Regions from separate parts of the Homo sapiens genome. Here region 2 is linked to region 1. The links come from fine-mapping of genetic effects on gene expression. A gene starts in region 1. The other region holds a variant in brackets. All regions are shown on one strand. Distances are from middle to middle.

Evidence for each region. PIP is the estimated chance that this variant, and not a neighbour inherited with it, causes the effect.
Region 2: its variant is the best candidate, but not a certain one, in a credible set for the expression of AKNA in whole blood (TOPMed, PIP 0.76).

What each region holds. Positions count from the first base shown.
Region 1 is chr9:114,385,640-114,390,024 of GRCh38, reverse strand. It overlaps AKNA (AT-hook transcription factor), which reads left to right and starts at 2,043. Exons shown (of 22, transcript NM_001317950.2): 1 at 2,043-2,165. LOC124902253 (a long non-coding RNA gene) reads right to left here and starts at 1,975. Exons shown (of 3, transcript XR_007061742.1): 1 at 1,772-1,975; 2 at 1,436-1,580. RefSeq lists enhancers at 1,751-2,040, 2,081-2,210, 1,681-2,416, 3,231-3,380, 4,151-4,210 and 1 more.
Region 2 is chr9:114,365,447-114,369,831 of GRCh38, reverse strand. It overlaps AKNA (AT-hook transcription factor), which reads left to right. Exons shown (of 22, transcript NM_001317950.2): 5 at 1,237-1,393; 6 at 2,135-2,289. Among named protein-coding and RNA genes, the nearest start is that of AKNA, 20 kb to the left of the region's middle. RefSeq lists enhancers at 54-758, 1,981-2,280, 1,752-2,700, 2,808-2,897, 2,918-2,977. The variant G/C (reference allele first, on the strand shown) is at 1,884.

The DNA.
Region 1 (4,385 bases):
CCCCTTGCACAATGGCACACATGGCCTCCAGAGCTGATAGGGAGGGGCCTCATTAGGGTTTGGCTCTGCTCCATGTGGGGCTGGGGGCTACAGGGAGAGCCCTGCCACCCAGATGTGGGTAAAAGGCAGGAAAGGGGATAGAGGGGTGGGCGATTACCAGGATGAGGGCTCCTGGTTCTAGCCCTGGCTACGCCAGATATTCACAAGCTGACCTTGGGAACGTCCACTCATTCATTCATTCATTCATTCACAGAACACATTCATCAGCCATAAACAGTGTGCCAGGCTTCAGGAAAGATATTAAGATCTAGCCTTTAGAGGAGACCAGAGACTTATACCTAAGTAGCAGCAATAGTTGTAGTAGCAATAATAAAATAGCTCAATACATGACTGTGTTCTGGCTCCCCCGCTCTACCCTTGGTAGGCATCATGTCATTGAATCTTTATAGCAGCCCCTGTGGGGTGGCTACTCTTCTTATCCCTGTTTTACAGATGAAGAAACTGAGGCTTAGAGACGTGAAGCCTCAAAGGTCAGGGCCAGCAGGAGATGGGGCTGGGATTTGAACCCAGGTCCACAGTGACTCTGAGATTTTTTTCTCTCCTACATGGGTGGTTCCCAAATCTGGCTGCTTATCAGAATTACCTGGAGGGCTTTTTGGACAATACAGAGGCCTGTTTTTTTTCCTCTTTCTTTTTGTTTCCTGACTCAGAGTCTCTGGGTCCTGGGTGGGGCCAGTGTTGGGAGCCTCTTGTGCTCCTGTGCCCGCTTTTCTGTGAAGCTCCTGCTTCTCCCGCTTGACTCGCTCTGCCCCGGGTACACAGGCCTTGCTGTTCTCAGGGAAAGCCCGCTGGCTCCCCCACCTTGGCCTTTCCACTTGCCCTCCCAGAACACTCTGCCCCAAACCTTCTTGTGGCTTGCTTTTGACCCCTCTTCCTTCCAGTGCCTTATTTGAATGTCACCTCCTCATAGAGACCTTCCTGACCGTCCTATAACCCTTCTCCTCCAACCCATTACTCTTGGCCCCATGTGTTCTCTACCAGGGCCAGTCACCTGGGACACTTAAAATGTCTGATGCCCAGAGACTGACTCTGTTGGCCTGGGGTGAGCCCCAGGCTTCAGTGCCACCTGGCCTGGGACACGGATCGTCACCCAGTCTCATTGTTCACAGCTCTCTCCTTGAAATTATACATGTGCTTGCTTATTGTCCATGTCTCTGCTAGAGTGGAGAGCAGGGGACTGGCCTGTCTTCGGCCCTGCCATATTCCCAGGTGATTTAAAAGCACCCGCCACACAGTAGGAGCTCAGTGAGTACCTACGAATGAAGGAATGGGATGGTGGGGCTTGAGGAAAGATAGCTCGACTGACCATCAGGATCGATCTGTTCCCAACATCTGGTGAACCCTTGGAGGGTTCTTACAACAAGGGAAAGTTTACCTGATCCGCCAGGTTCACACCTCCATGCTGCCCCGAACATCCCACTCTGGCTGCAGGACCACCTCGGGGTGAGGACGGTGGGTTGAGATGGCAGGAATCACCACGGTCTCCCTGAGATTCAGGTTGCACATTGGCAGAGTCAGAGCTGGAAGGGCAGGAGTGGTGTTGAGTCTGAGCTCTCACCGTGCACATGGGCCCTGAGGCCTAGTGAGGGAAGGAGCCTCGGCTAAGGTCAGGCCGTGGTTGAAGAGGGCCTAGAGGGTAGGAGCTACAGCATGCTGTGTGACCTTGGCCAAGCCTCTGACCTTCTCTGTGCTTTAGTCTCCCCATCTGTACCTGCAGGGCCTGGGCTGAGATGATCCCAAGCCCAGGACGTCAGGAGTTTGTTCCCTGAGTCCTTTCCTGGGCAGCGCTGACTGCGGAGGGCTTGCAAGGGGTTAAGCTCCTCCAGCTCTTGCTCTGCACGCAGACAAACCCCCTCCTTCTGACAAACACTTGTAGGAAATCAGGCTGGGCGCTTCCTGCCGAGGCGAGGCGGCCTCAACCACGGCAGGGGCGGGGAGAGGTGGGGAGCGATGCTGGTCTGTGAGCAGCAGCTTGGGCTGGCAGAACGGCCTGGAGGTGGGCCAGGGCGCAATGGAGACAGGGGGCTCCCTGGGTTTGGAACAAAGAATTCACAGGCAGGTCCCCTGAAACTGGGTCGGCAGGACGGTGGTGGAGCCCGAGAGAGGTAAGGGATTGGAACGGAGGAGGGCCCGGGAGGCCGCTTTCCTTCTGGACGGGCCAGTCACAGACTCTCCGGGACAGTCCAGGCAGCCGGACCAGCCCAGCCAGGAAGTTGCAGCTGCTGGAGCTGCACCGCTTTTCTCTTGGCTTAGGGGATCCCGGCCTCCAGGGCAAGGGTGGATTTAAGGAGGATTTCGTCAAGCCTCAGGATGCTAGATTCCAGTCCTAGCTCTGATTCTGATCTCTTGTGAACTTGGGTAGGCGGGTCCATCTCTGTGCCTGGGGTGTCGTCGTCTGCACCTGGAGAGTTAGTGTCCTTGGTTGCTAAGGGGTCTCAGAGACGATGCAGGCATGGGCAGCAGGCCAGGAGGCAGCGACGGCGCCGGGGGGTGGTCCCTATTGAAGGAGTGGCCCCTTATGCCAGCTGCGTAAGAGCAAGGAGAGGAGCCAAGGACAGTCCGAGGACCAGCAGACCCAGCTCAGCTCTTGAGGATGGCAAGACCAGAGCTGGCAACAGCCAGGGCACCGTTTCTCTTTCTCCTCGGCCTCTGCTGCTGGAGCGGGCTGGGGGCAGGGAGGACACAGAGAGGGAGTGGCTGGTGCTTCCTTGTGGGACTAGAGTCCACACAGCTGGTGGGAACCCCTTGAGAACAGCAAGTCTGTGCCCTGCCAGCAGGTGGGTGGGGGTATGGTTGAGCCTTTTTGGAAGGTCTGGTTACTGATTTGGGGGGTGGTCTTCCTTCCCCATCTCCCTGACACATCTGACAGCCTTGGTTTCAGAGTTGCGGTACCCCAGCTTTGAATCCTCTGTCTGCGCTTCCTGGCTGTGAGGTCTTGTGAGAGCAGGCCATGTCTCTGTGCCTCAGTGTCTTCATCTGGGAGGTGTCAGGGTGTGGGTGGGGGTAGAAGCAGGGTGGCACCCTGGACAGCTCTGGCTGGATGGGAAGGGGCTGCAGAGGGCACGGGGAGGCTGTGCGGGCTGCGTAGCTGTGCTGGCAAAGGAGAGCCTGGGCGTCTGGGCAGTTCTGAGGGATTGAGCCATAAAGGGAAGGGTCCCTGGCTGTGGAATGACTGAGCGGGCGGAGAAGCCCTGTGTGGGTGGTGGGGAAGAAGAGTCCATCCCACCCAGGAACTGAAGATAGACACCTCAGGGGTCTGTTAGACCCTTGAGAGAGCAGGGGCAGTGGCGGCTTGGGTGTAAGAAGGAGATGTGCAGAAGGAGGGTGCAGTGGCTGCTACTTCCTTGTGGGGCCAGTTTCTCCAGGGATGGCGGGGACCCTGAACTCCATAGCCCTCCCCAGCTCACACTGCTGGAGTCTTCACCAAACCCCACTCACTGCCTTTTAGGAGCAGCCCTGCTGCCCTAACGAGGGCTGGCTGGAACAACTCTGCCTTTATCTGGCATGCAGGGACACCTGCCCATAGCTCTCCTTCAAGGTCAGGCCATACTTTCAGACCTACGTGCCTTTGCCTCCGTGCTGTTCCCGCTGCCTGGAATGCCCTCCCCAGTCTTCTCCCCCAAATCCTCATTGTTTCTCAAGCCCACCTTAAAGCTTCCTTTGGTAACACTTCTGTATTGTACTACCCCCCACCGTTTAAAATCTTGGAACACTTTTACTCTTTTCTATATTCTTTGCATCTTACGTAGCGCCTGGTATATAGTAGGAAGTCATAGGGCTTTTTTAAAAAGTTAATTTGCGCCCACTGGGTGCTCAGTATGTATCTTTGTACTTTGAAATGTGACCTCAGGGAGGAGGAGAGAGGTTAACAGTTCTGAGGCTGTTGCCCTTAGAAGCTGAGTCAATCAGGGACTTCAAAGCTCTTTGAGTCCCATACCCTGCCTCCCAACCCACCCTAGCAGGGTGATATCCCCTTGCGATATCAAGAGCAGGTGGTACTTTCTCTATTTTACAGTGAGGAAAATGCAAGCCCAGCTATACACAGTGAGTAACAGCAGCCAGGACTAGCACCTGTCTCCTGATGCCCAGCCTGCTTCTCTATCACAGCATCGTCCCAGCCTGAGGTTGGCAGGTAGTTGGCACTAACGTGTGTTTGTTGACTGACTAGCTGACTGGCCAGTTCTGGGGCTTTGTGGTGAGGAGGGCCATGGCTCGCATGGAAGGCAGAGGCCTGGCTCAGGAAAGGCTCACTGGTTTAGGCGCCTGGGGGCAAGTGCGAAACTCTAGTCAGTCACTGCAGCTGCCTCTGACGTGCACCTTCCCCT
Region 2 (4,385 bases), 20 kb after region 1:
GTGTTGGTGATAATGGTGATAGTGATGGTGATGGTAATGATGGTGAATGATGGTGATGGTAATAGTGATTGTTATGGTGCTGACGGTGATGATGGTGGTGGTAATGACAGTGGTGGTGATGATGCTGATGGTGATGATGCTGATGGTGATGCTGATGGTGATGCTAATGATGGTAGTGGTGATGACGGTGGTGGTGAAGATAATGGTGATGAATGTCAGGGTGGTGGCCACTATTTATTGAGCACTTATTTTGTGCGCAGAGAGGTTATTAAACCAACTAGGACTCAGAGGTGTGCTGTGGTAGAGCCTAGACAGGAACCTGGGCTCTAGCTGCAGAGCCCACATGCTAAGCCAGAGTTGGCAAACTTTCTCTGTAAAGGGCCAGATTGTGACAATGTTTGGCTTTGTGGAGCATATAGTCTCTGTCACAACTACTCAACTCTGCCACCAGAGTGTGAAAGCAGCCATAGACAACACATAAACAAACAGGCATGGCTGTGTTCAATAAAACCTTCTTTACAAAAACAGAACATAGTTCTCTCAACTCTGCTTTAAGCTGTTGAACAGCCTGTGGTTTCCCTCTGCTTTCCAGCTTCAAGAGGCCTTCCTTGGTCACCTGCCTGACTCCAGACTGCTCCCTCACCAACTGGGCTGGCTGCCATGTTAAATCCATCCTCAAATGATAGAGATCCGCTACCAATGGCAGATTAGTTTGTTTACTTGCTGGTTCACTCATTCATTCGAATAGCTATTAGTTGCTATTATTATCAGTATAATAATTATTAGAAATGCTTATATTTGTTAAGAAATAATTATATGTTATATGGTATATTAATTATGATATAATTATAACACACATTATTAATAAAAAATTACTGTTAATAGGAGAACCATAGGTGTTGGGGTCAGATAGAGCAGTGTTGTGATCCTCATCCAAGGACTTATCAGCTGGGGATTTTGAGTAACTGACTTAATAACCTCTCTGTGTCTCAGTTTTTTCTTCTATATAATGGGCTGTTGGGGTCCCCACCCTGTCTTCCTTTCAGGACTGCCATTAAGAGTAAATGAAAAGGCATGCAGTTCTTCACCTGTGTTTGGCCTAGCCAAGGGCTGCACTGAAAGATGGTATTTATTACTACAGGGCATGTGTGTTGAGCTCCTGAATGAAGATGAGGCGTTTCAGGTGGGTTTGCCCCTACCCTGACTTGGCTGTGCTGTGCCTCCCTGCTTCCACAGGTGAACCTGTTCTCTGACCCACCCCAGCCCAACCACAGCATCCACACGGGAATGGTGCCCCAGGGGACCAAGGTCTTGTCCTTCACCATCCCACAGCCCCGCTCTGCAGAGTGGTGGCCGGGCCCGGCCGAGGACCCCCAGGCCTCTGCGGCCTCAGGTGAGTCCGGGAGAAGAGCTGCAGCTGGAGGCTCCTTCTGCCTGGGATTCTGCTCTGTGGGACTGACTTGGTTCACCCTGGGGATGGCGCTGGCCTCAGGCCAGGGGAAGGAGGGAGGCAAGGCCCCACCCTGGGCACTTTGACTCAAAAGGGTCAGAGATGTGGAAAGTGTCCTGCTTTGATCCACAGCAGCCTGGGGGCAGCCCTGGCCCTGCCACTTGGCATCTTGGTGACCCTGGGTGAGTTGAAAACATAGAGCATTGTCCCTGGGGAGCCCATATCTCAGCCAGGCCCTGTGCTAAGCCTTGACACATGTGACCTCACTTAATCCCCACAATAACCCGCTGAGGTGTGCACTGTTGTCACACCCATGACAGCCAAGGGGACCAATTGGAGAGGTGAGGACACGCTGAAGTTCATACAGCTATGGAGGGGAAGTGTCTGGATTGGAACTCACGTCTCCCTGTGTGAGAGCCCACGCTGTTGACTG[G/C]GAACCCAGAGGCCTAGCGTAGCTCTGCTCCAGCCAACCATGTGGCCTGGGGCAGATCTGGACCTTGTTCTCCCTTGTAAATGGGGGACAATGTTCTACCCAGCCCACTTCCTGGGGCTGATGTGAAGATCGCACATGGTGACTGAGCTATAACTTGATGATGGAGGTGGTGGCTTTGACGTTCAGCCTCAGTCCTTCAGCTCCTGGAAGGACTGTTCTTGGCCCCAGCTTTCAGCAGTTGTGTATTCCAGGGTGGCCATCAGCTCGAGGAGACTTGAGCCCCTCCTCGCTTACCAGCATGCCCACCCTGGGGTGGCTTCCGGAGAACCGGGACATCTCTGAGGACCAGTCCTCAGCAGAGCAGACCCAGGCACTGGCTTCTCAGGCCAGCCAGTTCCTGGCCAAGGTGAGTGGACTCCCAGCTTTGCCCCCGAGAGACTTAACTCACCTGGAGAACACAGAACCTCTGCCTGCTTGGGTGAGAGGCACTCTGGGAGTCTCACTTGTCATTCCCCTGCCTCTGCACCGAGTTAACTCAGCCATCCCCAAAACATGAGCCCCTCCCTGGTTTTAGAGGCCACACAGCTCCAGCCTCCTCCTTGTCACCAGTGCTAGGTCTCACCCCCCTTTTTGGCAATGCATCTCATCCAAATCCCTCCACTTGTGCTTGGAAGTGTCTCTAGGCTGGCTCCCGGGAAACTCTGAGCTCTTTCAGGATTCTGGAAGGGTAACAGAATCTCCACTCTACCTTTTCCTCTTCAGGATAAGTTGCCTCACTTTCTTAGTTCATTTTATTAAATAAATCAATTCCTAGTTACTTCTCAAGGGTCTTCGTATCTTCATGAAACAGTCCAAGTAACCGTGAATTGTTTGCAGGTCTGTTTATAACTGTACATTGGCTTTATTCCAGAAGTGGTTTAAAGCACCTTATGAAAATACATACGTTTTAGCCACATTCTGAAAACAGAAGTGAGAAAACTGGGGCAGAGAGGAAGTAAGGGTAGAAAAAAATAAAATACGTGGAGTGAGTAAATAAAATGTTCTGTTGGACCCTAAGCACATTAGAGTCACACATTTAGCTTTGAGCTTCCTAGTTGCCAATGCCAAAAGAGAAATGCAATAGTTACATGCACTACCATGCCCATAAAACAAATTCTTTCAGAAGCACCACCATTTTATTCTTCCCTTCCCTTCCCTCCTCTCCTCTCCTCTCCCTTCCCCTCTCCTCTTCTCTTCTCTCCTCCCCTCCCCTCCTCTCCTCTTCCCTCCCCTCCCATCTCTCCTTCTTTCCCTTGCTTTACTGAAATATAATTCACATACCATGCGGTTGACTCATTTAAAGTGTTTGCTTGCTTCAGCGGTTTTTAGTATATTTGCAGTTCTGCCACTATCACCACAGTCAGTTTTAGAACATTTTCATCACGCACTAAGAAACCTCATCTGTATTAGGCAGTCACTCCCCATCCCCTCTTTCCCCAGCCTCCGTCGGCTGCTCTTCTGCTTCCTGTCTTTATAGGCTTGCCTATTGTGGATGTCTCATAGCAATAGATTCACGCAATATTTGTCCTGTGTCTGACATCTGTCACTTACCATGATGTTTTCAAAGTTAATCCTTGTTGGAGTAGCACATACAAGTACTTCATTTCTTTTCTTCTTTTTTTTTTTTTTTGAGACAGAGTCTCACTCTGTTGCCCAGGCTGGAGTGCAGTGGTGCAGTCTTGGCTCACTGCAACCTCCGCTTCCCGGGTTCAAGCAATTCTCCTGCCTCAAGCCTCCCTAGAAGCTGAGATTACAGGCACGCGCCACCATGCCTGGCTAATTTTTGTATTTTTAGTAGAGATGGGGTTTCACCATGTTGGCCAGGCTGGTCTTGAGCTCCTGACCTCAGGTGATATGCCTGCCTCGGCCTCCCAAAGTGCTGGGATTACAGGCTTCGTTTCCTTTTGCCACCACCATTCTTGGTTCCGTAGCCGGAGACACATTTCTTCTTCGTCCTATATGTTGTCCACAAAATAAAGCAATGTCAAATCATCACACTGAGCAGGAGCTGGGGCCTTAGCTGACCCCTCATGTCTAGTGCTGCACGGTCCAATTCAGAAGCTGCTGGCCACATGTGACTGTTGAGTACTTGACATGGGCTGCTCTGAATTGAGACGTGCTGTGGGTATGAAACACATGCCAGATTTCAGAGACTTAGAAATATAAAGTGTCTCCCTATTTTTTTAGTATTGATTACATGTTGAAATGATATTTGGGGCTAAATAAAATATAAAAATTAATTTTACCTGTTTCTTTTTACATTCTCAATGTGGCTATGAGAAAATTATAGATGGTGTAGCTCACATTATAGTTCTATTTTATATATTATAAAATTATGTAATATGATTATATAATATACATTTCTATATTTCACACTGATCTAGAGCTTTCTTAAAACCGAACCTTACATCATCCCTTGCCTTTTTTTGTAATTAAACTTTTTTGAGCAGGTAATAGATGCCC